Linked DNA regions of Homo sapiens. The protein of the gene in region 1 interacts with the protein of each later gene in a pairwise test. Each region holds a gene or a part of one and is shown in the gene's direction. Other genes may lie near its edges.

Region 1 (7,852 bases):
ATGGGTGGACAGGAGGCTGAAATCCCAACAAAGGATGTAGATGCCAAATGGCAAGGACGTTTTTATTCTATGCCAGAAGGCTTGATTTCCTTTAAATCAATCCATTGATTCGAAGACATTTCATTGGAGGAATTTAAAATGGAAGGATTATAATCAAGTGTGTGTTTTTATTTTTTATTTTTTTGAGACGGAGTCTCACTTTGTTGCCCAGGCTGCAGTGTGGTGTGGTGATCTCGGCTCGTGGGTTCAAGCGATTCTCCAGCCTCAGCCTCCCGAGTAACTGGGATTACAGGCACCCACAACCACGCTCAGCTAATTTTGGTATTTTTAGTAGAGACGGGGTTTCACCATGTTAGCCAGGCTGGTCTCAAAGTCCTGACCTCAAGTGATCCGCCTGCATTGGTCTTCCCAAGTGCTGGGATTACAGGTGTGAGCCACTGCACCCAGCCCAGTGTGTGTTTTAGACGAATAACTCTACCTGCCATATGGGAAAGGACAGGGGAAGTCAACTTCAACATGGTTTGGGAAAGAAGATGTGGCTTAAACCAAGATGGAGCAGAGAGGAGAGATTAAAATGAAAGGTATTTGTTTTCTTGGACTCCACAGGACTTGATGAATGATTTTGAAGGGGTGGATATAAGGAGAGAAAGGGCGTTATCAATGACACCTGGATTTTGTGATTACAAAACTGAGAGGCTGTTAACGCTATCCACAGGAGAAGCAGATTTAATGGAAGAGAGATTTAAAGAATGGGCACGTTAACTAACTTTGCATTGTTTAGGCACCATCGTGTCCTATACGCAGCTCAATTCAATAAATACTCATTGAGCACCCAATAAATATTCATTGAGCCAGTATGTGCTGGGCACTATTCCAGATGGTTGAGGGGACATTAGTGAGCAAAACAAAGGTGTGTCGTCACTGAGCTTAGATTTCTAGTGTTGACTTAAAAAATATGATTTATCAATTTAGAAAGGGAGAAGAGCCTTTATTTCTTCTAAAGGGTTACAGCATGCTTCCAGCTTAGACCACAGACGGGCACTTTGAAGGAAAAGGCGTTTGAGGTAGGAGCTTTATGCTGACTGGGTTGGCTAAACGTACATATTTAACAGATTACAAGAGGAGCTACGAATATTTATGATGGCGGACCTGACACATTGAACAAACATGTATGTAATATATGACCCATATTCACTTTGGGATAGAGACTCAACATGTGAATGCATTACAATTACACCCTATAGGTCAAAAGGTCTTTTTAGGACAGGAAGGCGCCTTGAGTGTACAGTTTCTGTAAACTGGCCAGACCAGTCCACGGTCGGCGGTCTTATCAGGAGAAAGTTACTGAGATCAATCTCTTGACCAGTCAAAGCTGTAGTTATGGCTGGTGGAACAGGGGTTCAATTAGTCACTGTCTGGTGGAGCTGCAGGTGTTTTACTATTGCTTATCTCAAGGCCAGCGTTTAGCTGCTGGAGAAAAAGAAGAGCCCTGTGGCAGTTAGAGCTTAGTTGATTCTTCAAGTGTAGGGGTGCCTGACTTCACCATTGCCTGCATGGCCTTAGGTCCTGTTTATAATTGGGTATCTTATTGCCACAGAGTCTGTTCCGTTAGTCTTATGATCTCTGTTTTAATGTTAATGCCAGCCAGTTGTGTATGAACTCCAAAAGGAAGGGGGTACAATGAGGGCTATCTGATCTCCTGTCCCGTTATTTGAAATGCTTTTTCCCTGGTGCTGGAAAGAAATAGCACTTGTAGGCTGGGAGCCGTGGCTCACGCCTGTAATCCCAGTACCTGGGGAGGCTGAGGCGGGCGGATCACGAGGTCAAGAGATTGAGACCATCCTAACCAACATGGTGAAACCCTGTCTCAACTAAAAATAAAAAAATTAGCTGGCCGTGGTGGTACATGCCTGTAGTTCCAGCTACTCGGGAGGCTAAGGCAGGAGACTCACTTGAACCTGGGAGCCAGAGGTTGCAGTGAACCAAGATCGCGCCACTGCACTCCAGCCTCACGACAGAGTGAGACTCCATTTAAAAAAAAAAAAAAAATGAAGAAGAAATAGCACTCGAAGGCTGGGCGCAGTGGCTTGCCTGTAATCCTAGCACTTTGGGAGGCCGAGGAGGGTGGATCATGAGGTCAGGAGTTCAAGACCAGTCTGGCCAACATGGTGAAACCCTGTCTCTACTAAAAATCGAAAAATTACCCAGGCGTGGTGGTTGGGCGCCTGTAATCCCAGCTACTCGGGAGGCTGAGGCAGGAGAAGCACTTGAACCCAGAAGGCAGAGGTGGCAGTGAACCGAGACTGTGCCACTGCACTCCAGCCTGGCAACAAGAGTGAAATTCTGTCTCAAAAAAAAAAAAAAAAAAAAAAAAAAAAAAAAGGCGCTTGAACATTAATTTACTAAGCAGGCCATTTTTACTTCCTGCAGAAAGGGTACACTCGCCAGCAGTTTTGCCATGGGAGTATACCAAACAAAGGAGACAGGGTCATTTATAACCTGACTCGTCCACCCCACTGCTTGTGTCTAGTTTCCATTGGCTGGAACGGTGCCTCACGTTCTGTATTTGTCCCGATTGGCTAGCAACTTAGAAGTTTTTAAAAGAGGCAAAGGTAGAGGAGAACAAAGGAAGGAGGAAGTAACTTGTGGAATGGTGACAAAGGTTGAAACACCTTCAAATAAGGAAGAGGAACAGGCTATGACCTAATGCTTTCTTGGACCACTATAAGCATGCCAGGGCAAATATTTAGGCTAAATTGTGAGAGCTAAGAACATGAAGTACATTGATTTCTTTATCATAGCTAGCAGATATTTAAGAATGTTAGCACAGGTCTTTGAATAAAGTTTGCTTCTAAGAGAAGTTACTATTTATTCCTAATTAAATGGGGAGGAAAGTCTTTGAAGAGGAACCTCTACTTTACTTTTTATACCGTCATGGCTGGAAACTAAGTTTTTAAGATTTTTCTGGGGTTCCCTTGGCCGAGGTGGGGAGTGGGAGGGCTGTCCAGTGGTAGGGACTTAGGATTTTTAGTTTACAGTAGTAGGGGAAACACTCTGTAATCTAATACATAAGTAAATGATGTATTAGAATATGGTAAATATAGGCAAGTAGACCCCCACTGGGATTAGCAGTGGTGGAAATGTGAGAGAGGGCAAACAGGTGGGTCTAGATGAGGTGTGAGCAGACTCGAGGGGCACAGGAGTTAGTCAAGCCAGTATCTGGGGGATAGTGCAGGAATAGTGAACAGCTAGACAAAAAGTCCTAGGGCCAGAGAAAGCAAAAGCATAAGAGATGGAGGCCAGAGAGGTAATCTGGGTGGAAGGCTGCAGCCTCTCAGGATCCCTATAGGTGCTTTGGCTTTTGTTGGAGAGACACTGAACAGCTTTGGGCAGTGAACGTACCTGACAGGTTTCCTGTTTGTTTTTGAGATGAAGTCTCGCTCTTGTCCCCCAGGCTGGAGTGCAATAGCGCGATCTCAGCTCACTGCAACCTCTGCCTCCTGTGTTCAAGCGATTCTCCTGCCTCAGCCTCCCAGGTAGCTGGGATTATAGGCGCCTGCCACCATGCCTGGCTAATTTTTGTATTTTTAGTAGAGACGCAGTTTCAGCATGTTGGCCAGGCTGGTCTTGAACTCCAGACCTCAGGTGATCCGCCCGCCTTGGCCTCCCAAAGTGCTGGGATTACAGGCATGAGCCACCGCGCTCGGCTAGACCTGACAGGTTTTAAAAGGATTACTGGTTGCTGTGTTAAAACAGACTGCAGGATGGCTTAGGTAGCCAGTAGGTTTTTTTTTTTTTTTGGAGACGTAGTCTTGCTCTGTTGGCCTGGCTGGAGTGCAGCGGTGTCATCTTGGCTCACTGCAAACTCCGCTTCCCGGGTTCAAGTGATTCTCCTGCCTCAGCCTCCGGAGTAGTTGGGACTACAGGCGCCCACCACCACACTCGGCTTTTTTGTATTTTTAGTAGAGACGGGTTTCACCATGTTGGCCAGGATGGTCTCGATCTCTTGACCTCGTGATCCACCCGCCTTGGCCTCCCAAAGTGTTGCGATTACAGGCGTGAGCCACCACGCCTGGACGGGTAGCCAGTAGTTTCTAGGGCTGGAGAGATCTAGGATGAGAGAAGTTTCCACATTCCTGTTACAGGCTCTCTAAGGCTTCAGCTCCTTTTTCTAGGACTAAGCTGGATCTCAAGTAAACACTAGAGAGGGGGCAGCTGAAGCTCCAGGAGTGTGTGGGGCTCCCTGGGGCTGGATGGCGGTGGCGGGCAGGCGAGCTGGGCTGTGCTCGGGTGTGTTACAGTAAAGACGCCCAGCTTGGCGCTGGCCCGGCCTTTTCACGGTTTTAGGCTCTACAGAGAGCGGCTGCAGAGCTCACCCGGCTGGCAGGAGCCACCGAGGCCGGACACGTGGGCGACTTATTGACCAAGTGGGGAGGAAGCAGCCCCGCACTGCTCTCCCGACTGCGGACCACCGTTGGGCTCCTGCGCATCCTAAGCCCCACCGCCTCACCTCCAGTCCCCACAGCGTTCGCGCTCCCAGCCGGGGTAAGCGGAAGAAAACAAAGGCCCGGCTCCATCAGGGCACCAATCCCGCTCGTCGGCCTCTTTCTCGGCCTCCAATGAGCTTCTAGAGTGTTATCACGCCAGTCTCCTTCCGCGACTGATTGGCCGGGGTCTTCCTAGTGTGAGCGGCCCTGGCCAATCAGCGCCCGTCAGCCCACCCCACGAGGCCGCAGCTAGCCCCGCTGGCGGCCGAGGCCGGTTGAAGTGGGCGGAGCGGCGGGCGGGGCGTCGCCGTACTAGGCCTGCCCCCTGTCCGGCCAGCCCCTCGAAGCACCTACTCCACAGGTCCAGCCGGCCGGTGAGCGCCTGGGGACCGCAGAGGTGAGAGTCGCGCCCGGGAGTCCGCCGCCTGCGCCAGGATGGAGTTCGTGAAATGCCTTGGCCACCCCGAAGAGTTCTACAACCTGGTGCGCTTCCGGATCGGGGGCAAGCGGAAGGTGATGCCCAAGATGGACCAGGTGGGCCGAGCCTCCCTGCTTGCCCGGGGCGGGGAAGGAGCTCGCTGGGCCGGCCTCAGGGCCTGAGCGGCCGGGCCCGGATCTGGGGCAAGGGGCGCGGCGAGCAGGGCCGACGCCTGGGTGTTCCCGTCCCCCTTTCCTCGAGCCTTCCCCCTGTAGGGCCCGGGTGGACGCGGCCGTCCTGGCTGACCTGTCCCTGCCCCCGCAAGCCGCCCTGGGCATGAGCGACTTTTGCGTGGTTCCCGGTGGTTGCGCTCCCCGTTTCGTCCCCTCCGTGAGCATCGGCGCTTACCGGTATTTTAACCCGAGGGTTACACATCTGAGGCAATGTGGGTGGGTTACGCGGGAGAGGACGAGTGAGTTTTTTGGTAAGCGGAATGAACTATGCAGATAACATCACATGAAGGCCGTTTCTGGAATGAAGTCTGACTCCTCCAGTTTCACCACCTCTTCCGGAGCTCTCCCCGCCTTGCTGCCTTCCATCGCTTCATCCTCGGTGCTTCCTGAGTTTTAAAATCGCCTATCTACGCTTCCAAGTTCCAATGAGTTATCTAACGTCTATGGATTAGCTAGGTGGTTGGTGGAAGGTCAGAACTTGGTTTTACTTAGATTTTTATCTGCCTCATGCCTGTACTATTTGTTTAATGAATGCATAGGAGGTGTTTTTATTCCAACAAGAAAATTATTCGTACGCGATTATTGAATGAATAGACAAATTCAGCCAAGTTCTTCTGGTCTGGACCAGCCTGGCTGATTTCTGTAACTTTTTTGGGCCAACAGGACAGTAGCAAATGTGACTCAGGCCGAGGCTTGATAGGTGCCTGAACATCGGAGTCTTTCTTTCAGTGTCCATGTGCTTCAGTAAACACACTAGAAAATAAATTTCTGGTTTTTGTCCCCAGTAGACTACACCCTCATTTGGTGTTATTTTTCACGTGCTATCTTTAATACAGGTACATCCTTCAGTCTATTTGTAGAACATTCAGTTTTCTTCATCTTTTCTTTGCCGGTGCTACATTATTTGAATTATTTTGCTACAGAATAACTTCTATTATTTGATATGGCAGATGTCACTTTTTATATTTAGATATAGCATTCATTTATTTAACAAATATTTGACGACCAGTTGTATATCAGATAGTGTTCTAGGTGCTGGAGGTACAACAGTGAACAAGCTAGGTGAAGACCTTGATTTTATAAAACTTACTTTTTAGTGGAAGAGAGACAATTTAAGAAAGCGAATGTACAGTTTTTCACGTGGAGAAAAGCACTGCAGAGGAAGATACTAGCAGGGCAAGGGATCTGAGTGCAGTCAGACCTCATTTGGGTCCAGACTTCATTCCTCTATGTCTCTTTCCTTTCTACAGAAAGACTGTTAGAGAAAATGGTAGCATTGGTTTCCTGTTGGGAGGGAAAGTGGGTGGTCATGGTAAGTGGGTAGAGAAAGACTTCACAGTATACTGTTTTTGTACATTTTGAGTTTTTTTAAAAGCGAGACTTGAGCTATTCTAGCTCTGATAATATGGTGCAGTATTTGTTATGTTAGTTGTAGTCTTTCTGGGCAGTTTTTACATCCCCATGAGCCGTTAAAAAAATACCTGAACCTTTAATTAGGGGAAATAAATTGGAAAAATACATTTCCCTTCACTTAACATTATCTTAGTTTCTCTTTTTTTTTTTTTTTTTTTTTGAGATGGAGTCTTGCTCTGTTACCCAGGCTGGAGTGCAGTGGTGGCGGGACCTCAGCTAGATGCAGCCTCCGCCTCCTGGGTTCAAGCAATTCTCCTGCCTCAGCCTGCTGAGTAGCTGGGATTACAGGCACCTGCCACTACGCCCGGCTGATTTTTTGGTATTTTTAGTAGAGACGGGGTTTCACCATGTTGGTGAGGCTGGTTTTGAACTCTTGACCTCAAGTGATCTGCTCGCCTTGGTCTCCCAAAGTGCTAGGATTACAGGCGTGAGCCACTGCACCCGGCCTTTTTTTTTTTTTTTTTGAGGGGGGGGTCTCACTCCATCGTCCAGGCTAGAATGCTGTGGCCTGAACATGACTCACTCCAGTTTTGACTTCCTTGGCTGAAGCCATCCTCCCACCTCGGCTTCCTGATCCCGAGTAGCTGGGACTCCAGGCACGTGTCACCAATGCATGGCTAATTTTTAAATTTTTTTGTAGACACAATGTCTCGCTGCATTGCCCAGGCTGGTCTTGAACTCCTGAGCTCAAGCGATTTTCCCACCTCAGCCTTCAAAGTGCTGGGATTACAGGTGTGAGCCACTGCACCCAACCAGTTTCTCTCTGCAAACTAGGGAAAAAATTTACGCTTAGCAGATACTGAGGGCTGATTATTTCTATCACAGAAGCATTTGGCTATAGAATTTCAGGGTTTAGTAAACTTGATTTACACTGAATTTTTAGGTGCATATCAGTAAATCTACGGGCATATGCCGCCTGCAAGTTGTGTGGCATCACCCAAAAGCCGAGAGTAATGGAAAGAGCAGGCTGTTAGTAATCAGGCAGATCTGGCTCCTGTCCAATCTAAATCCTGTTATTTAGACTAATATCTTAAGTCTGTTATTAAGTCCGATTTCTGACGCTATTAAGTTAGGTGAACAACCTTGGTAACTTAACCTCTGAACCACAGTTACTTCATCTGTAAAATAGGGATGTATGTATGGTAACGATTTTTTAACCACAACTTCCCAACTCTAAGATGGTCTGAAAAGAATTTTTTGAGTGTTTGGCTCAGAATCACTTGGCAGCAAAACCTGACTTGAAGTTGAGGCTTCATTCATCCCACTTAGTATATTCAAATGTTTTGCTAAAGAAATAATTA
Region 2 (7,022 bases), on another chromosome or scaffold:
ACCAGCCTGCATCATGCAGATGGAAAAGGTGGGAAGACTGGGACCTGGAGGGGTGATCCCTGCCCAAAGTCACCTAGTTGGAGCAGAGCCAGAACTAGTATCCCCAGGTGTCCCAATACCTGGGCCAGTCTTCTCTGTAAGCACATGGGACAAGAAGCCTTCCTGGATGTAGCTCTGGGTACCAGCCTGGCATTGCAGCTGCCATCTACTTGGTGGCGAGCACCCTGCCAGGTGCTTTACATGCATTGTGCATTTACTCCTCACAGAACCCAGGAGATGTGCAGGGTTAGCCTCACTTTACAGAGGAGACTCAGAGGTGTTAAAACCAGAGTTACGGTGTCACAGTTTCAAAGAAAAGAACTGATCCTCTCCACTAGCATTAGATGATGCTAAGGGGGTGTAAAAATACAAAAAAACTGGTCCCTGCCTGCCCCTCAAGAGTGTCATGAGATGCCTGCACACATGTGGGCTCATGTGTGTGTATTTACATACATGTGCAGACATACAGAACACAATTCTGGAGCCCTGGGTCTCCTTCATGAACAGATGGGGCTGGAGTGGGGAATATTCTCCATGATCAGAGTCATTGTACTTCACTGGATCAGGCCTCCTCAAGGAGAGGTTGGATGTAGGATCTCTACAGCTTCTGGGCAGCTTCTGAGCAGGGTCTCCTGGACCCCATGGCACATGCCTGGGAGACCCATGGGGAGAGGCTAGCTGGGGCCTGTAGCCAGGCCTAGTCGCAGAGGTGCAACCCTGGTGTTCCTTCAGAAAGGAAATGAGAGGGAAGCCACTGCCCCATTCCTGGATCTGCCTGGGCCGCTGGATTTGGGGAGGGGGTTGTTGAGGATGGAGTCCCAAAGTGCTTCCGACCAGGGCCAGTCTGCAGGGCACCTCCCTCCTGCTTCCTCCCTCTTGATGTGACTCTTGTTTCCAGGGGCTGATGGTGGCCATATTATACTGCTTTGTCAACAATGAGGTAAGCTCTGAGGAGGGACGGTGGGGACCCTGGTGGGTGGGTACCATCAGCCCGTCTGGAGTAGTACAATGGGGACTCCCATCAATCTTGCCAGCTGAAACCCCCTACTCACCTCACTGAGGCACTAGGGTTGAGAAGCCATCTTGTCCACAGATTTGGTTTTCTGTGCATGGTCTCTCTCACACATGAACACACACACACAAGTACATGTACAGGTATACCCTAATGGCATGTGACCCTAAGGAAGACCCAGACTCATGTTAAGGGGATCCTGAATGACCCTCTTTGCTTGGTGGTAGTGACTGTCACTTACAAAGTGATTCAACACACACATACCCAAGCCACATGCTTGGGGCTTTAATAATCACTATCTCATTTAATTATGACCCCCACATCCCTCAAAAAAAAACCCTGCTAAAATTCTTATTTCATATTCCCATTTTTTATATATACATGAAAACACTGAAGATCAGAAAGAGTCAGGAACCTGCCCTAGGTTTGGAAATAGTGGCACACATCGCTTCTTAGCCTTTTGGCTAAGGTGAAGTGTGGAAATAGTGGCATGGCAGAGCCAGGATTCAAATTAATTCTGCATTAAAGCAGAAAGTACCCCATTCTTCATACACACAGGCAAGAGCCCTGGCTCACTGTGGGGAAGGGGGTGGCTTTCTGGTGCTAGGATGGGAGAAGGGGGTTCTCGCTGGCCCCACACACTCTCCTGAAAATGTCTGCAGGACAGCAGGCCTCCCTCCCATCCCTGAGATGGTCAGCTCCTGGGAGGAGGGCATGGCTGTGTTCATGGGCACCTGGAAAAGGCCCCTTCCACCAAGGTACTCAGCTTTGGAATCCCAGAGCTCAGGGATGTTGGAGTCAGCACATTAATAGGCTTGTCTTTTTCTATGGGTGTGGGGGATGCAGAAAGGACAGTGGGTGGGGACCTGGGTGTTTCAAGGAGCTATGAGATGGCTCAAAGAAGCAATGTGATGTAGCAGAAAAGATGCAAGGATGCAGGCTTTGGCATCTTATTTGGTCTGATCTGGGCCCCATCACTTAATGAGCTGTGTGACTTTGCCTAAGTTACCTGCCCACTCTGAAACTTAGTTTGCTCATTTACAAAGTGGGGATAATCCTGTGAGGATTAAGAAAGTCTGAAAAAGGTGCGAAAGGGGAACAGAGAACAAGTCCTTCCTTCAAGGTGGGATGCTGAAGGCCCATCCTAGCTCCTCACAGGTGCTGCTTGGCATGGAGAAACACACACCATTATCTCCAGATGCTCAGTAAGCAATCACTATTAGATCAGTATTCAGTGATTCCCAGAGACAGGGGCCTAAGGAATTTCAGAGGATGCCGTGCAGAGAAAATGAGGCTGGGTGAAAGGGAAGGGAGGGGAATGTTCCCTTGTCCCTGAGGCCTCCCCCTGCTTCTGCTGAACTGGCTACCTGTGGGAAGTGTGGCCCTCAGATCTCTAAATGGGAGGGAAACCAAGGTCTCTTAAGGGTTTACTGCATATAAGGTGCTCAGAGTGTCTCATTACATCCAATGCTGTGCAGCAGATGGTATCCCCAATTCACAGCTAAGAACGTTAAGCCTCAGCAAAATGAAATGAGTAGCCTAATTCAATAGACAGAAGATGGTAGAGCTAGTGGGCTGTGGCGGGGGCAAGATCCCACTTAATGCCTCAGGGAAGCAGGTGCTGGGGAGGTGAAGGCAGCGCCAGGCAAAGAGTGGCCCATAAATGGGATTCTGGCTGCTCCTGGGACAGGTCTTAGAGGACCCAGCGGCTCCGTTTGGAGGGTAGGGCAGGGAACAGGCTCGTGACCCACAGGAGGCAGTCCTGGTCCTCCTCCACTGCCATATCCTCAAAATGAGTTTCTTTAAAACTGATGCAAACGAGGAAGTGCAAAAACCTAAGCTCTGTGGGTGGCCTCCCCTCCAGGAATGCTCTCAGCCAGCTGGGTGATGCGCTACCCAGCCCTGAGCTCTGCTGCTTTCCATTCCAGCCCAGTGGTGATGGGGGCAAGACAGGGTGGCATGTATCCTGTGTGGGGATGAGGAGCAGAGGCCTGTAGGGAGAGACTGAGGCTCCCTGCTGCCACCTTGTCATCTTGACCCCCCCACGTCCCCGTTTCTCACTTCTCTATCCTCTGACACTGTCACTGCAGCCCTACTAGCAGACACGTGTGCTTGGCTTCCCCCCCGCCATTGTGAACAGTCTCCCCTGACCCCTGGCTCAGCTGCCTCTCCAGATTCCATCCTTCCAAGCCTAGTCATCTCATCACCTCCCTCCTCATGCACCACCTATGGCTGGCCCACCTTTGTAAGGGGATAGTACTTCTTTGCCCTTGGAAAAAAACTTGATCCTGAATCACCAGGGTTGCACCTCTCTGACCAGGCCTGGCTACAGACCCCAGCTAGCATCTCCCCGTGGATCTTCCAGGCTAGTGCCACGGGGTCCAGGAGACCCTGCTCAGAGAACGGGAGAACCTGTCTCCCTTCAGAGCACCAGCCAGTTCCTTTAAACCCACCCTGAGACTCCTCATGCCCTGGCTGCTCCAGGCACAAGGACAGATACATCATTGTCACTGGGCCACAAAAGACACATGTGGCTCTGGGGCTAAGGCCTCTGTCCACAAGAGCTGTTCTGCAGACCCAGGGTTGCCATGGCAATGCCAGGTACTTGTGACCTGAGGAGAAAAGATGGCTTGAATATTGGTTCTGTGTGGCTGCCAAGGCCTGCACCAGCTGCTGGTGGGCGTGAGTGGGGACAGGGAGGGGGAGGCCTGAAGGTGGTTTTGCTGTAGCTTGTGCCTGAGAGCCACAGTGAGGTGACTCAGAGCCCTGAGTGCTTGTCCCAGCCCTGCCACTGCCGAGCTGTGTGACCTGGGGCAAGTCATTTTGCCTCCCTTGCCTCTGTCTCCCCAGCCGTAAATGAAGGTGAATGAGCTTCCCAATTCACCCCGAATCCTGAGGCTGGCATGGTGCCTGCTGGAGAGGGAGGTCAGGAGGGGTGTGCTGCACTGCAGAGGTCGAGGGCAGGGATGAGGATAAAAATCCGATGGTGGAGGAGGAAGTGTGGTGGCCTAAGTCCCAGCCCAGGTGCTCAGAATCTGTGGTGTTGTCTTTGTGGGTTCATTTTCATAGCTGAGGAACAGAAGGAACCTGATGTGAGATGCTCATGCATTTATGTGTTCATTCATTTGGTTCATTTAAAACACATGTACTGAGCACCTGCTGTATGCTGGGCACTGTGCTAGGTTCAGGGATGCTGAGATGAAGAAGATGTGGTCCCAGCCCTCGAGGTGCTCCCAGGTGAGAGGTAGGAGATGGACCAGGGACAAGCAGGACTGCAAGAGCCACGCAGGCAGGAGGCCAGGGGTTAGGAGCCGGGCATTGGAATCAGGCCAGATCTAGGTTCAAATCCTGGCTGAGCGACCTGAGGAAATAAACACTCTGCACCTCAGTTTCCTCATCTTTAAATGTGGAGCTACTTTGCAGGGTTGATGTGAAAGTCAGCTAAGATAATTAATGGAAAATTCTGTGCATACAGTAAGTGCCCAATAAATATGGTGATTTTCAAGGACAATCGTGATTACAGGGGTCACAGCAGAGGTTCAGGAAAAGTGCTGAAGGAGATGGGGGCAGAAGGAGACACTGTGTGTCAGCACCCTGAGAAGTCCCATAGGTGTCCCTGAAACCTCTCTTTGGTCTCTGGTTTCCCGGAGGTGTGCCTCAGTTTACCATCTTTCCCCCCCTCTCCAGCGGAAGGGCTATGAAACAAGCCTGGCCTCCTGGCAGCTGCACAAGTGGGGGCCACCACTGGACTCAGGGCCCCCATCCCAGCTGTCAGCATGCGCTCCCTTCACAAAGACTCAGCCGGGCAGGGAGCTGGCATACAACAGGGTGGCTGTAGGTGGTGTCTGCTCAGCCTCCTTCCCTCCCCCACTCAAGCTTGGGTTCATGACGCTGCATGGGACACTGGCGTCATCCTGGCAGGCAGCCTCTGGGCCATCTCAACTCTACTCAGTGCAGAAAATGTTCTTTTAAGGGATGGCATGCAGCCATACCAGGCGTCTTGCTGGGCATAGCTGGATGGACGACAAAGGAGGAGAGGAGGGTTGTTTGCACAGGGGCTGGTGGGGAGATTGGCCCCTTATCCACAGCCGCTGGCATCTGGCTGTCTTGGTGACTTGGCCTAAAGGGAAGGGCCCAGACCCCAGACACTCTGGTGTGGGAAGGGTGGGGACTTCAAAGAAGCTCTGGAAAGCAAATGTATGGGAACATCACCCAGAAGAGCAGTCCAGACCCCCCAGGACTAGCTTGGCAGGTTCCAGCTAGGCCTCTCCAGGGACCAGAATCACTGGCCACCACCGGGAGCCACAGCATTGCCACAAACCCTCAAGGGATGGGGGCTCCACAGTGTTACTTGGATTTGTCTCTTTCTGCCCCAACAATCTGGCCCCCAAGCATCAGCCCTCCTGAGAGGCTTTTCCTGATGGGGAGGCCAGAGCCCAGCACAACAGGGATCCTGGCTGACTGAGCTCCCCTGGGCTGCACCCCCATGGTCACTGCAGTGTCTCTCTAGATGGCATCAGTTGAGAAGCCCTCACTGGCTGCCCCTTCCTCCCTGCTGTTTCCCGTCTCAGCCACATTCCTTCCTTCCCTCCCTCCTCCCCTGTGAGGTGCTGGGGCCTGGAGAGAAGCCCTCAGGGAGTTTAGAAGGGTCTGCTGTAGACACCAGGAAGGCTGGGGGTTGCCGTCCCCCTTCTCAAGCATCCAAGCTGAAACTGGACTGTGCGCTGTAAAGACAGAGTCTCTCTTCTCTCTCCCATCTCCTGTCTCCCTGTGTTTCACCCTCCCTCTCATTCTCTTCCGTTAAATAATACTGTGATGGATTGTAAAAGGTACTTAGCTGAATCACAGAGTTTAGAGATGGAAAAGACCAATTAGGTCATCAAGCTGATCTCTCTCCTGAGGAGCTGCAGAAAATAGGAGACAACAATAAACAATTTTATTGGGATATTAATTTAGGAGCCCGAAGGCCTTGACTTGTGTCTCTTAATATAATGCAGTGGATTTCTTCCCTTCCCCACTAATGTAATAGTGGGGCCATTTTGTTAGCCATTGGTTTGCATGATGGCTTTCGTTTCCCTCCTTTTCCCATGGAAGGTCCAGCTGGAATTTCGGAAGAGCTGGGAGCGCTGGCGGCTTGAGCACTTGCACATCCAGAGGGACAGCAGCATGAAGCCCCTCAAGTGTCCCACCAGCAGCCTGAGCAGTGGAGCCACGGCGGGCAGCAGCATGTACACAGCCACTTGCCAGGCCTCCTGCAGCTGAGACTCCAGCGCCTGCCCTCCCTGGGGTCCTTGCTGCAGGCCGGGTGGCCAATCCAGGTGGGAGAGACACTCCCAGGGACAAGGGAAGGAAGGGACACACACACACACACACACACACACACACACACACACATACATCCTGCTTTCCCTCCCCAAACCCATCAGACAGGTAAATGGGCAGTGCCTCCTGGGACCATGGACACATTTTCTCCTAGGAGAAGCAGCCTCCTAATTTGATCACAGTGGCGAGAGGAGAGGAAAAACGATCGCTGTGAAAATGAGGAGGATTGCTTCTTGTGAAACCACAGGCCCTTGGGGTTCCCCCAGACAGAGCCGCAAATCAACCCCAGACTCAAACTCAAGGTCAACGGCTTATTAGTGAAACTGGGGCTTGCAAGAGGAGGTGGTTCTGAAAGTGGCTCTTCTAACCTCAGCCAAACACAGAGCGGGAGTGACGGGAGCCTCCTCTGCTTGCATCACTTGGGGTCACCACCCTCCCCTGTCTTCTCTCAAAGGGAAGCTGTTTGTGTGTCTGGGTTGCTTATTTCCCTCATCTTGCCCCCTCATCTCACTGCCCAGTTTCTTTTTGAGGGGCTTTGTTTGGGCCACTGCCAGCAGCTGTTTCTGGAAATGGCTGTAGGTGGTGTTGAGAAAGAATGAGCATTGAGACGGTGCTCGCTTCTCCTCCAGGTATTTGAGTTGTTTTGGTG
Region 3 (7,022 bases), on another chromosome or scaffold:
TTAGGCGCTTTGACTTCCGTCCAAAACCTGATCCTTATTGTCAAGCTAAGTATACTTTCTGTCCAACTGGCTCACCTATCCCAGTTATGGAGGGTGATGATGACATTGAAGTTTTTCGATTACAAGCCCCAGTATGGGAATTTAAATATGGAGACCTCCTGGGACACTTGGTAAGGATGCATCTTGGTCTTATAACTTTGGTTAATTCAATGATTTGGTTATTAAGTTGATTTTTAAGGAGTAATCACTATTTAGATGGCTGACTTTAGATCATGTTGGTGTTTGTCTTAGTACATTTAAAATGAGTAGTCAAAAATAGTTACTATCAGATTTTGTAATCTTGACAACAACAAATGTAATCACCATTATCCATTGTAATATTATGAATCTGAAACCAGCTCCTGTACCTAGCTCCTGGAAGGTGAGAAGAGGCCCAGAAGTGGCAGGGCAGGCAGGTAACACCTCTTGATTTCCATACTCTGTTGTAGTCACTTTTCCAGGTTAACCCATCACCATGTGAGGTCTGTAGAGCTGCTTCCAGAGACTGGCATGGGGGCTCCTCACACTTATTCTAAGCTCTAAGGAAATTATCAGCTTGTCCACATAACATGCAGGCCTCCTATTTGAGATGAGCCAAATAGGGGTGTAGTGGCCAAAGCTGGGGTGGATGAGGGCCTGGAGTTTGGGGCCACAGAGTGGATATGACAGTAGCAGCATGGAAGAACAGCTGAACAGTTGTTCTACTTGATATGCATTTGTGATGTGCCACATTTTCTCCTATCAGGTTACCTGGACCCATGGTTGTGTCACAGTTGCTTTTATACATGTACTGTCTTTACACAGAAAATTATGCATGATGCCATTGGATTCAGAAGTACATTAACTGGCAAGAACTACACAATGGAATGGTATGAACTTTTCCAACTTGGCAACTGTACATTTCCCCATCTCCGACCTGAAATGGATGCCCCTTTCTGGTGTAATCAAGGCGCTGCCTGCTTTTTTGAGGGAATTGATGATGTTCACTGGAAGGAAAATGGGACATTAGTTCAAGTAGCAACTATATCAGGTAAGTTGTGAAAATATAGCAATATTTGATCATTGCATCAAAAACCAAATGAAAGAAATTGTTATACTTCCATTGAAACATTTCAGTAATGTTTTACTTAGAGGTCATTTGTAAAATGTACTTTTGGAACCATTAAACTTTGGGAATTTTTTTCATCTCTTATTTGTATTTTTTATTTATTTTATTTGAATAGGTTTGTGGGGAACTGGTTATGTTAAGTTACATGAATAAGTTCTTTAGTGGTGATTTCTGAGATTTTTGCGCACCCATCACCCGAGCAGTGTACACTGTACCCAATGTATAGTCTTTTATCCCTCACCCCTCTCCGACCCTTTTCCCCGACTTCCCAAAGTTAATCATTCTTATGCCTTTGCATCCTCATAGCTTAGCTCCCACTTACAAGTGAGAATACACAATGTTTGGTTTTCTATTCCTGAAGAGTTACTTCACTTGGATGGAATTGGAGACCATTATTCCAGGTTGCTGCAAATGCCATTATTTCATTCCTTTTTATGGCTGAGTAGTATTATTCCTTGGTATATATACACCACATTTTCTTTATCCACTCATTGATTGATGGGCATTTGAGCTGGTTCCATATTTTTGCAGTTGCAAATTGTGCTGCTATAAACATGCATGGGAAAGTATTTTTTGCGTATAATGAGTTCTCTTCCTTTGGGTAGATACCCAGTACTGGGATTGCTGGATCAAATGGCAGTTCTACTTTTAGTTCTTTAAGGAATCTCCACACTGTTTTCCATAGTGGTTGTACTAATTTACATTCCTAGCAGCAGAGAAGAAGTGTTCCCTTTCCCCCACATCCCGCCAATATCTATTTTTTTTTATTTTTTGATTATGGCCATTCTTGCAGGAGTGAGGCGGTATTACATTGTGGTTTTGATTTGCATTTCCCTGATCATTGCATTTCCCTGAGCATTTTCATGTTTCTTGGCCATTTGTATATCTTCTGAGAATTGTCTATTTGTGTCCTTAGCCACCCCCACCCCGCCTTTTTGTTGTTGTTGTTTGTTTGTTTGAGGTGGAGTTTTATTCTTGTCGCTCAGGCTGGAGTGCAATGACACAATCTCAGCTTGCTGCAACCTCCACCTCTTGGGTTCAAGCGATTCTCCAGCCTTAGCGTCCCAAGTAGCTGGGATTACAGGCGCCCGCCACCATGCCAAGCTAATTTTTGTATTTTTAGTAGAGATGGGGTTTCGCCATGTTGGCCAGCTGGTCTCAAACTCCTGACCTCAGGTCATCTGCCCACCTTGGCCTCCCAAAGTGCTGGGATTAAAGGTGTGAGCCACCACTCCCGGCCGTTAACCCACTTTTTGATGGGATTGTTTTTTTCTTGCTGATTTGAGTTCCTTGTAGATTCTGGATATTAGTCCTTTGTCAGATGTATAGATTGCAAAGATTTTCTCCCACTCTGTGGGTTGTCTATTTACTCTGCTGATTGTTCCTTTGGCTGTGCAGAAGCTTTTTAGTTTAATTAAGTCTCATCTATTTATATTTGTTTTTGTTGCATTTGCTTTTGGTGGAACCACTAAACTCTGACCCAAACTATTACTCATGCAGAACTTCACCTGTTGGTGATGAGTAGCTTATCTCTGATCTTTGAATGTTTCCCTAAAAATGCTCTTTTCCCATCATAAAAATGAATAAAATGATAAAACATTTTGTACAATTAAATTGGTCTTTCTAAACGAAATAGTAAGAGAAATCCATAAAATGCCTGATTAAAGGATATGTTAACTATATCTGAAAAAAATTTTAGTGATGATATTTTTATGTTGAAAAATAATAGCTACTAATATAGACTGGTTCTGGCACTGTTCTGAGTACTGTACATACATCACATCATTCATCATCACAACTTCTGGAGGTAGTAACTATTATTTTGCCTATTTTACAGATGGAGAAACTGAGGCACAGAGAGGTTAAAGTTACACAGCTTAGTAAGTGGGACTCCAACCCTGGCAGTTACGCCCCATTGCCCATTCTCCTAACTACTTTGATACATTGCCTCCCAAAATGTATATGATCTTATATTTGAGACCCTCTTGAGCAGTTTAAATATTTTATCTTTGAGATTTTTTTCTTCTTTTGGATGTATTGGAAAGTTGCTGAAAGTTGGAATTGTGTTGCAAGTGCTGCATTGTTGGTTAGTAATGAAAAGAGTTCAGCAATCCTTTCATTGGTAACTCCTTATGTGACTTGGGTCACATTTTATATCTTATTGGCCCGTTGCCTCATGTGCAAAATGGAGACAATATACCATAGCATTTGAGAAGTAAGGAGCTTGTCCATATGATTTATGAAGCATTACATTATAAATTGCTGTTCCCCAGAACAGTAGAAACATCTGAAATGAAAGCACTGTTGTGACAATAATTATTCAGTGAACCCCAGGACTTGAGGAAGTAATCATGCTTCCTATTTGTATAGCTCTTTACAAATGATTTGGAGGTATGTTAACTCACGGTTCAGTGGAGAGGATAAGATACTCATTCTCTGCAAATAAGGAATTGAGGCTCAGCCAGGTAACATGACTTACTTGCCTCTCAAGGTCAAAGAGCTGGATGTAGCAGAATCAGGAATAAAACTGAGGTCTTTTAAATGTAACAAGGATCTGTTAGCCGAATGCACCATGTTGTTTTCTAATATTTCCTGCTACTTTCTAATCAATGTGCCTTAAACCATACCAACAATACAAAAGTCCATCATTAGCGGTTCTTTCTTTCATTCCAGGCCAGTTCACACCTTTCCCCATTTCCACCTACATCGTTATCTGAAAATCCTTCCTTCTGACATAAAGTCAATGATCATATGAATAAGTGATCACTATTTTTTGTAAAATAGTTCAAAATATGCCAGTACTTAAATCTTTTAAGTCATTTATTTGCCTTGTGAATAATCCTGTGATTGACAAAATAGTGTTTTGAAGCATTCTTGTCTCATAAGGATAGTGGTGGCATTTGAAAGTTGAAGAATGCTAAGAACAGTATCCCCAGTTCTAATACAACAGGCTTTATTCTGTTCTACAATTTTAATTCCATAAAATTGATAAAGGCAGTCACTCTATTCATTTTACAGAACATGAAGTATTTATTTTATGGACTCAAGTTGGAGTAACCAAAGAGGTTTGCACACAGTGACAGGATGCAGTGTTTGGGGCCCAGTTCTATTAGGCATTATAAATGCCCAAGATGAGAGTTGTAACCATGCAGAGTAGTGTTTTCTGAATATTTGGAAAGATTCTTCTGGTCTAGTACAAGATGGTAGAAGAGAGGGTTAGCCATCCTGGAGTATGAACTCGGCCTAAAACATTTCCAGTTTAGTTGATTTGTTGGAAGGACTTAACGTGGCAGGTGGAGAGGTCATCAGCAGCATCCCAGCAACTCCAAGTACAGGGAAGAAAGAAACGTACCAAACACACAAGGTGGATGGGGTATGGTGCTTGTTCTCATAACAGTAATAGCCAGCCTTCTAGAGCAGTGGCTCCTCAGGCAGCCATTCATACTTTATGTGTAGCATGCTTTGCAACAGTGAAGCTCCACATTTCCCACACCTCCATTTTCCTTACACTGTCTTTGCCCATTCTGCTTTTCCTCTTTCGCAATTCTTTTTGTGCTTTCCTTTTCTCTTTTGCCTCTGAATCCAAGATTTGGTGAGTTGGGTAGAGAAAGAGAGCTTCTGCATTTGTATAATTTCGCTTTGACTATAGCTTAAATGATTATAGAATTAGTATGTAAGATGACTTCTCCTTATACACCTATTATATCTAATGTTTATAATTCAGAAATATCTTGTGCCTTGAAGAATGGAATAAAATTGGCTGAGCTTGGATTCCTGTTGTGAAATGCAGGTGTGGAAATTCAAAACCATTGTTTACTCAGGCATCCAGTCTTAATCAAGTTAGAACATTTTACTTAAAATTAATATGATTAGGCCAGCCATGGTAGCTCAAACCTATAATCCCAGTGCTTTAGAATGCTGAAGCAGGAGGATCACTTGAGGTTGGGAATTTGAGACCAGCCTGGGCAATACAGCAAGACCCCGTGTTGCCCAGGCTGGTCTCAAATTAAAAAAAAGAAAAATTAAAAAATTAGTTGGGTTTGGTGGCCAGCGCCTGTAGTCCCAGCTACTCAGGAGGCCGAGGTGGGAGGATCACTTAAGCCCAGGAGGTCAAGGCTGCAGTGAGCTGTGATGTTACCACCGCACTCTAGCCTCGGCAACAGAGGGAGACCTGTCTTAAAAAAAAAAAAAAAAAAAATTAACATGATTAGCTTTGTTCACTAGGTGACTTTGTTTTGTTTTTTTAAACTAGGAAACATGTTCAACCAAATGGCAAAGTGGGTGAAACAGGACAATGAAACAGGAATTTATTATGAGACATGGAATGTAAAAGCCAGCCCAGAAAAGGGGGCAGAGACATGGTTTGATTCCTACGACTGTTCCAAATTTGTGTTAAGGACCTTTAACAAGTTGGCTGAATTTGGAGCAGAGTTCAAGAACATAGAAACCAACTATACAAGAATATTTCTTTACAGTGGAGAACCTACTTATCTGGGAAATGAAACATCTGTTTTTGGGCCAACAGGAAACAAGACTCTTGGTTTAGCCATAAAAAGATTTTATTACCCCTTCAAACCACATTTGCCAACTAAAGAATTTCTGTTGAGTCTCTTGCAAATTTTTGATGCAGTGATTGTGCACAAACAGTTCTATTTGTTTTATAATTTTGAATATTGGTTTTTACCTATGAAATTCCCTTTTATTAAAATAACATATGAAGAAATCCCTTTACCTATCAGAAACAAAACACTCTCTGGTTTATAAAACACCTTAATTCTACTGCTCTTTTTTCTCCAATCACCAGCATCTGTTTTTCAGGGGGTGATTTTACTTTTGTGAATTCCTTAGCCTTTCTTCCTTGGTGCATAAAGTTAAAATGCACATCAGCAGAATTGCTGCATATTAACATCTCAGGACTCTTCTCTTGTAAAGAAGCTGAAATTCGTACTATATTGGCCAAAGTGAGCGAGTTAGGTGATCTTGGTTTCAATTTCCGAGCCTTTGTTAATATGGAGAATTATGGTTCATATCAGTTATGTAGGACCTTTGGACCCAGGGTCCTACAGATAGATATGGTGTGCCCAGATTTTAAAAATACCTTCAAAAATAAAAAATACATTCAGTGACATTTTCATGGTGGGAGCTCTTCTTTCTGATATGGCAGTTACACTTTTTCACTTAAGTGCTTTAGTTTAGACTAACTTTACAACTTCTATAACTTTTGGAACCAAGTTTAGTATAGTCTGATTACATTCCATTCACCTAACTTTAGACATTCGTTTAGACACCATAACTGGAGTGATTGTGCTTCTAGATGTGGCAAATCCAGTGTTAACACATATTTCTGGCTGAGATTTTGGAACTAGCTAGTAACTGGCTTGTGTTCTTTAAGCATACTAACATCACTAAATCTTAGGATTTAGGATTGCTGTAAAGATGTAAGTTGTGTATGTTTGGCAGGTCACATTGAATGGCAGTGATAATGATTAATCAAAGAACAAATGTCATCCTTGATCTTGCCTAATGTAGTTTATGTGCCAAACTTTCCAGGGTTTTGTAGTCACCTAGATTTTAAGCTGATAGCATAGTGCTTCAGCGGTTCTTCTAACCGGGGTATGCAGGAACATGGCTGCAGACACGTTTGGGTAAACAGGCACCTTCTGACTTCTTCATTGTTTCCTGTAGTTCTCCCTCTTCCCACAAAGCTGTCAGCGCAGTGGAAGAGGTTGCACTTCTCCGAGAGAGGACAGGTTTCTGTTAAGATCACCAAGTAGCTGTGCTTTAATTAGAGCCAGACAAGCTTTCAAGGTCCTTTAAGTATTTGATGATCAACTGAACACGTTTCTATTCAAGGAGAAAACACCATTCAGTAAGA
Region 4 (7,537 bases), on another chromosome or scaffold:
TCTTGGCAAGTATTCTAGGAGTATAGGAAAATGAAAACAATAAACTCACACACCTTTATAACATACACAACCAGTTCTGTCTACCCAGCCAAGGTATATTCTTCTTATGTGGAATGTTGAACTATATCTGCCACCCCACTAACTGGAAGGCACCTGCACCTTAGTATTTCTAAGTCCCGACATTAACATTTCCCCAGGAAATCAGACCCTATCAGTACCCCTCAAAGCTCAAGTCTGTTAGTGCAGAGCCATACAACTAATACCCCTACTTATGGGGTTAGGAATGGCTACTGCTACAGGAACCGGAATAGTCAGTTTATCTACTTCATTATCCTACTACCACACACTCTCAAAGGATTTCTCAGACAGTTTGCAAGAGATAACGAAATCTATCCTTATTCTACAATCCCAAATAGACTCTTTGGCAGCAGCGACTCTCCAAAACGGCCGAGGCCTAGACCTCCTCACTGCTGAGAAAGGAGGACTGTGCACCTTCTTAGGGGAAGAGTGTTGTTTTCACACTAACCATTCAGGGATAGTATGATATGCCACCTGGCGTTTACAGGAAAAGGCTTCCAAAATCAGACAATGCCTTTCAAACTCTTATACCAACCTCTGGAGTTGGGCAACATGGCTTCTCCCCTTTCTAGGTCCCATGGCAGCCATCTTACTATTACTTGCCTTCGGGCCCTGTATTTTTAAACTCCTTGTTAAATTTGTTTCCTCTAGGATCGAGGCCATCAAGCTACAGATGGTCTTACCAATGGAACCCCAAATGAGCTCAACTAACAACTTCTACCGAGGACCCCTGGACCGACCCGCTGGTCCTTTCACTGGCCTAAAGAGTTCCCCTCTGGAGGATACTACAACTGCAGGGCCCCTTCTTTGCTCCTATCCAGCAGGAAGTAGCTAGAGCAGTCATCACCCAATTCCCAACAGCAGTTGGGGTGTCCTGTTTAGAGGGGGGATTGAGAGGTGAAGCCAGCTGGGCTTCTGGGTCAGATGGGGACTTGGAGAAATTTTCTGTCTAGCTAGAGGATTGTAAACACACCAATCAGTGCTCTGTGTCTAGCTAAAGGTTTGTAAACGCACCAATCAGTACTCTGTAAAAACACAGCAACCAGCGCTCTGTGTCTACCTAAAGGTTTGTAAATGCACCAATCAGCACTCTGTAAAAATGCACCAATCGGTGCTCTGTGTGTAGCTAAAGTTTTGTAAATGCACCAATTATCACTCTGTGAAATGGACCAATCAGCGCTCTGTAAAATGGACCAATCAGCAAGATGTGGGCGGGGCCAAATAAGTGAATACAAGCTGGCCACCAGAGCGGCAAGCTGCTCAGCTTCCCTTCCATGCTGTGGAAGCTTTGTTCTTTTGTTCTTCACAATAAATCTTGCTGCTGCTCACTCTTTGGGTCCACACTACCTTTAAGAACAGTAACACTCAACACGAGGGCCCGTGGCTTCATTCTTGAAGTCAGTGAGACCAAGAACCCACCAGAAGGAATCAATTCCGGACACACTATTTTCCAACAAGTTCTCCATCTGGCTTCTATTTTAAATTCATTAAAAGTAGGATAACATCATATGGAATGTAAAAAATTGCCAAAACTGAGGGCAATTTATGCAACTGCTGAGATTCACTCCAGATCCTCAGAGGAACTTGCTATGTAATGAAAAAAGAGATACACAATCCATCATCCCATCACAGGAGGCAAAATGAACTAACTTCTAGGCCAGAGGAGAGAGTAACAAGGGAGGGAAGGATTCATTACAACTGGAGGATCCTGGAAGGCTTCCTAAAAAGGGGGCATTTGAGCCTAAAAAGGGGCCATTTGAGCCTATCGGATGATTAGCTTTTGGCAAGGAAAGAAGGGAAATGGCACCCATGATTTCCTGACTCCCAGAAAGCCCCTGTCCCAGCTCTGAATGTCCCAACTGACACATTCTCCCAGGCCCTACTTATTCTCTGCACCTCCCTTGGTATACCCCACTTTTCACAATAATCACTCTTTCTACCTTGCATTATAGTTAATTGTGTGCATGCCTTATTTCTCTTGCTAAGCCATAAGGTCTTTGAGGAAATGGAATCCATTCACTTCATTTCTGCTTCCCCATCCACTGAGCCCAGAACTGGCCCATCACCAGCCTCTAATATATGCCTGGAATGTATGGATAAATGAGTGTGAACTGGGCCAGTTTTAAAAAGTGTTCAGATTCCTTCAGACATTTATTTAATAATATGAATTAAAACATCAACTCTGTGTGAGGCATTTGTGCTAAGTGTTGAGGATAAAAGTGGTACACATGGGCATGGGCCTACCCTCAAGAAGCCGATCACATAAAGTGGTGGCAAACACTAAATAAATGAATAAATATTTGTTGAGTTGCAATGGTGACTATTTTTAAGAAGGAAAAATAGAGAACAATGACAGATGAAATGTACCTAGATTCACAAGGTGCCAGGCACTGGGCACTACCCACGTGTTAACTCATTTGGTCCTTATCACAGTCCTAAGAGGTACAACCTTTTTACAGATGAGAAAACTGAGACACAGGAGAGTCAAAGAACTCCCCAAGACTAATAGCTAGTAACTAGTGTGGCTAGTATTATGGGAGAATTTCACAAAGGGACCTAATCTAGTCTGTCTACTTAGGGAAGGCTTTCCCAGGGAAGTGACATCAAGCTGAGGCCAGAAGGGTGAATAAAGGTGGGCCAGGCAAAGAGGCCACTGTGGGGAGTGTTTTGGGTGGGAAGGCCTGGAGGAGGCCAAGGGCTTAGCTAACTTGAAGAACTGAAAGGAAAGCAGTGAAGCTGGTGGTGAGGTAGGCAGAGGCCATGCTAAGAAATTTGTATTTTATGCTAAAAACAATGTACACTTTAAGTAGAAAAGATGATCCGACTGGAGTTTTGAAAAGCTCATCCTGGCAGCTGTAGAGGAGAATGGAGGGGGACCCTGTCTCACATATTTCCTATATGTGGTTAGGAGACAGGATGGTGAGTTGAATTGGGTATTGGCAGTGCAGGTGGAGGGGTGTCAGATTTGCTATATTTAGGAGAGAGAAGCAAGAGAATTTGAAAATTGGTTATGGCAGCTGTGAGAAATGGAGTGTTGAAGATGGTGCTCCAGGATTCCGACTTGGGTGCACAGGTGGCTGGTGGTACATTTAGTAAGATGGGGAAGATGGAGTTCAGGTTTAAGGGGAAGATGAAGACTGAAGTCCTGGCCGTTATGAGTTTGAAGCCCTATGAGCCATCTACGCGGAGAGAGCTGTATACGCTCTTGGATGTGTGTTTAGCGGCCAGGCTGGGGTGGAGAGGTACATGTGGGAGTTGAGGCTTGTATCTGTGGACCCACAGAGAAGGGAGCCAAGCCCTGCCCCAAGGAGCCCTCATGTTTGCAGGTCCTGCCTGCTTCAAATGTTACTGGTGATAACCTACATGTCACATTTGACAGGGCTTCCAAACTAAGCCATCTAAGAAAGGTCTTATGATTCATGGCTTAGATCCTGTCCCTGAGTAAAAAATCTTACTGTGAGTCCTTCAAATCCTTTTGTCAGTTCCTCAAACTGCTGATGTACTGATTAGTATGTAAAATACTGACATTGAAAAGAACACTGACTTGTTTCTGAATCATATAAACTTTGATTTTCTTGTGCACAAAACATTTTAGCCTGTATGTTGTCATCTGCAGCCAGTGACTGTAACCTGTGTACCATACCCTCCGATGAAAAAAATCCCACCTCTGATATAAGGGGTCCTCCTCCCTTTTCCTAAACTTTCTTCTAAAACCCTTCCAACGTGTAACAAATTTTGAAACATGCCCAACTTTGCTGGTAAGTCTTCTTGGGTGGATCCTCACATTTAGCTTCCAATAAATCAAATTATTTCTACTTCAACAGCCTTAATTTCCGTGGACACTGGTCAGAGTATTTCCTCCTGTCTTTCCATCATCCACTTCCTATGAGCTGTTCAGAAGCAGCTCTCTGCAGCCCCAACACCCACCTACCTGCAGGCCCCCCTCTCTCTGCTGGCTCCCGGAACAAGGCTCTGATTGGGATGGCAGAGGAAAGAGAAACGGGACCAGCAGCGCTACTCAGGCCTCGAAACTCCACACTCACTACCGTTTCCGCGCCACCCTCTCACGCGGAGCTCCTGGAAGGGTCCAGCGCTCCCTCTGCAAGGCACCGTCGGTCTACACCGCTCGATTGGCCTTTTATGGCACTGACTGTTCTTTGAAGCTTTTGCAGCTCCTTCTAACCCGATTTCACCGTGTTGGAAATGTTGGGGGTGGGGCGTAAAGGGGGCCATCCCATCCACAGAAAGAGTCGCTTGCAGAAATGATTTTAAAACTCCCGGGTGCCAGGACGTGAGGAGAATCCGGCAGGGAGGGACGGGAGAATTTCCAAAGGTGCCGCTCAGTGGGAAAATCCCTTTGTCAGAGAGTGGCCCGAGGGGCGCGGAATGCAGCCGCGCCCACCCCGCCCCGCGTCACCGCGTCTTCCGGAAGCTCCACGCCCCTGGGTACTTGGTTTCCCCGCATGGTTCCGGAAGAGCGCGGCGCAGCTGGCTGTGAGCGCAGGGCTATCCCGGCGGCCGCTTCGGCAGCCAGGGCGGCGCGGAGGGGCAGGGCCAGAGGGAAGCGCTTTGTTCCGCGCGTGGTTCCCGCGCCTGGGGGTGCGCGGGAGAGGCGCGAATCCGAGTGCCGCGCGCGGCCCGGGGACTTGCACGGGCGTGCGGGGTGGAACCGCAGGAAGCGGAGCTCTCGGGTTCCCGCCCCGCCCCGCCCCGCCGGCGGCGGAGGCAGCGAGCGCGAGAGCCCAGCGGAGTCGCTGGGAGCCTGAGGCACCGAGACACAAAGGCAGGCGGGATGCGGGAGCAGGCAAAGGGAAAGCGAAAGCCGCGCGCCCGGCCGGTGACTGGGTGAAGGCGCCGCGCAGCTTTCCCGACGCCGGCTGTACCCGGACCTCCTGGTCGAGCCTGGCGCGCCGCAGCCATGGCCATCGCTCAACTGGCCACGGAGTACGTGTTCTCGGATTTCTTGCTGAAGGAGCCCACGGAGCCCAAGTTCAAGGGGCTGCGACTGGAGCTGGCTGTGGACAAGATGGTCACGTGCATTGCGGTGGGGCTGCCCCTGCTGCTCATCTCGCTGGCCTTCGCGCAGGAGATCTCGATTGGTAAGCCTCGCCCAGGACGGAGGGGAGTGGCCGCCCCGGTCTGGCCCGGTGAGCTGCGATTTTACGGCTCACAGGCCCGAGTCTGGGTACGCCCAGCTGTGATGGTCGTGAGCGTCAGGAAGGGCAGTGGCCCCAGTTTTATGGTCCAAAGCGTTCTTTGCCCAGGTGTTTCATTGGTACCCTGGTCTACTCTGCTCGCATCCCTACTCCTCAGTTCTTTTGTTCCTCATGCCCCTCTGATCGGACTGTGGCTTATAGTTTATGTTCCACCCTTAGAACTGGCACCTTGCCACCAGATTTGCCAAGAATAGCTGTGTCCCCGTTTTTCACCCCTGTCTCCTACATATTTGTCCAGCCGCCTAAAATTTTACACCAGAGAAGTTCCTGAGTGGCTACATGGAGGATGTGAAGACCGGTGCTCCATGAGAAGTGTGTTCTTTCAGTGTCTTACATATAATTGGTATTTGCTGAGATCTTAGCTCTCTAGGGTTGTGAATGATAGGAAATATCTGCACTTGGCAGGCATTAGAGGGATCCTCAACTTGGACGGTCTTACAAATGTGAGATGAACAAGTCCCCTTCCTGTAAATTATCATTTGAGCTTCATAACAGTTGTGTGAGATTGGAAAGTCTGGTGGTTTGGGCAGGATCACGTGGCTACGTGCCTTACCTTCCTCATCAGCTGTTCTGACTCTCCACACAGGAGAGAGTGTTTATGAACCAACAGGAAGGTAGCGCAGGAGGGTTAAATACAGTTCTGTGGCAGGGGAAGAGAGAGGACCCAGTGCGGCTGGACTTTGGGAAAACTTTTGTCAGAGGGTGGGTGGGATTTGGACAAGAAGGAGTAAGACCTTTGTTAAGGTTTTGAGATGGCAGAGAATGTTATATGTTCCTGGAAAGAGAGACACAGTGACTCTCCTAGCCAAGGCAGGAGGATAAGTCAGAGTTCCTGGAGTCTGAGAGTGAATATGGGCCTGGGTCAGCCTGGAACAGAAGAGTGTAGGCTGATGGTTTCAGAACTGTGAAGTTATTGTTTGAGCAGAGGACAGACTGGTTGAATGATGGTGGCATTTAGGGTCTGGGAAGAAGGTGAGAGGATGGGGCCTGGAGGGCTGGGTGCCAGAGAGCAAGGCATCGGCTGAGGTCTTGTGCACAGAGGGTGTGAAGAGTGGAAGAAAATGGGTGGGTGATTGCTGTGCGATCAAGGAGTAAATAAGCAGCACTTGAGTACCTAGTATTTAATAGGCCATGAACGGCAGTACTGGTCAAACGTGCTGCGGAGGTTGTATGTCTGGGTGAGTGGAGTGTGGTGTTGGTGGTGATGGGAATTGTGAAGTTGAGGGAATAGTTGATTAGGAAAGAATGACTATGAGTGTGATTTTGCAATCTGCAGCACTAAGTTGTTCAGCTTGGCAGGAAGTTGCCAAATTCATTGTGGAAAATAGTTTTTAGTTTTCCTGCTCTTTGCGCAGGCATAGTCATCGGGATGTTCTTTAAGTTTCCATTTGACAGTGGATTGAGGCTTCCAGCTGAAAGCAAAACCACCAAGTAGCATGAGTCCTGGAGATAATCTCTCCCTTTGGTCAATTCCTCCTTCAGTACTGGCTGTGTGCTGAACTCGGTGCTGACCTCCAAGGACCCGGGAGTAAAAGAGGCATGATCCCTGTCTTGGAGGTGCAAGTCTTGGGTACCTGGTTGGGACAGAAAGGCAGGAGGAAGGAGTTAGTCACCCTCTGTGACCAATCTCCACCTCTAGCACATGTACTAGAGGGACTCCTAAGGCACCTGTACCTGTAATGCCTTAGATACGTCTAAATTGGTGGGCTGTCTGAGAGGTATTTTTGGGGTATTGGGAGTGGTTTTAACTAGCAAGAGTTTGAGCTCATGCTGTGTGCATAGCACTGTTGTGTGCTGAGGGAGATGGGAAAGGATTTTGAGACCTTGTTCTTGCCCTGCCCTCTCCCTGCCCTGTGGCAGTTTACTATGCAGTTGGGCACTAGAAGGTATCTGTTAGCAGGTAAGTCATTCAGCTGTGTGTAATTCAGCACCCAGCCAGGTGTTGAGCTATGAGCTCCAGGCTGGTGAAGGTTGGCAGGCACTTGGGTGAGGAGCTGTCAAGCAGACTCCCATGTTTTCTGAAGTGTTTTCAGGAGTTCCAGGGGAGGACAGACATGTGGGATGAAGCTAACAGGACCAGGGAAGACCTATTAGATTAGGTATACATTTAGATAAAACCAGAAGAAGGGCTTTTGAGAAGAGGGGAGAGGTACATAGATTAATACATGGAGTTGGTACAGTGGGAGGGATCATGTCATGCAGCATTTAATTTTGTGTAGTTAGTAGTATGCACTCAGCCAAAA

The links.
Region 2: the proteins of FDFT1 (region 1) and GLP1R interact in a protein complementation assay, tested with the Homo sapiens proteins (one study listed by BioGRID).
Region 3: the proteins of FDFT1 (region 1) and CLN5 interact in binary tests that used the Homo sapiens proteins (3 or more experiments, as listed by UniProt).
Region 4: the proteins of FDFT1 (region 1) and PANX1 interact in binary tests that used the Homo sapiens proteins (3 or more experiments, as listed by UniProt).

What each region holds. Positions count from the first base shown.
Region 1 is NC_000008.11:11,797,911-11,805,762, forward strand, and holds the start of FDFT1 (squalene synthase), read left to right. Parts: upstream 1-4,830; 5' UTR 4,831-4,922; coding exon 4,923-5,021; intron 5,022-5,167; exon of another isoform or gene 5,168-5,608; intron 5,609-7,852. UniProt on the Homo sapiens protein: Catalyzes the condensation of 2 farnesyl pyrophosphate (FPP) moieties to form squalene. Proceeds in two distinct steps.
Region 2 is NC_000006.12:39,079,761-39,086,782, forward strand, and holds part of GLP1R (glucagon-like peptide 1 receptor precursor), read left to right. Parts: intron 1-937; coding exon 938-979; intron 980-6,145; coding exon 6,146-6,313; 3' UTR 6,314-7,022.
Region 3 is NC_000013.11:76,995,059-77,002,080, forward strand, and holds part of CLN5 (bis(monoacylglycero)phosphate synthase CLN5), read left to right. Parts: intron 1-4; coding exon 5-170; intron 171-843; coding exon 844-1,069; intron 1,070-2,984; coding exon of another isoform or gene 2,985-3,013; exon of another isoform or gene 3,014-3,027; intron 3,028-5,399; coding exon 5,400-5,911; 3' UTR 5,912-7,022. UniProt on the Homo sapiens protein: Exhibits palmitoyl protein thioesterase (S-depalmitoylation) activity in vitro and most likely plays a role in protein S-depalmitoylation.
Region 4 is NC_000011.10:94,124,317-94,131,853, forward strand, and holds the start of PANX1 (pannexin-1), read left to right. Parts: upstream 1-4,524; 5' UTR 4,525-4,996; coding exon 4,997-5,177; intron 5,178-7,537. UniProt on the Homo sapiens protein: Ion channel involved in a variety of physiological functions such as blood pressure regulation, apoptotic cell clearance and oogenesis.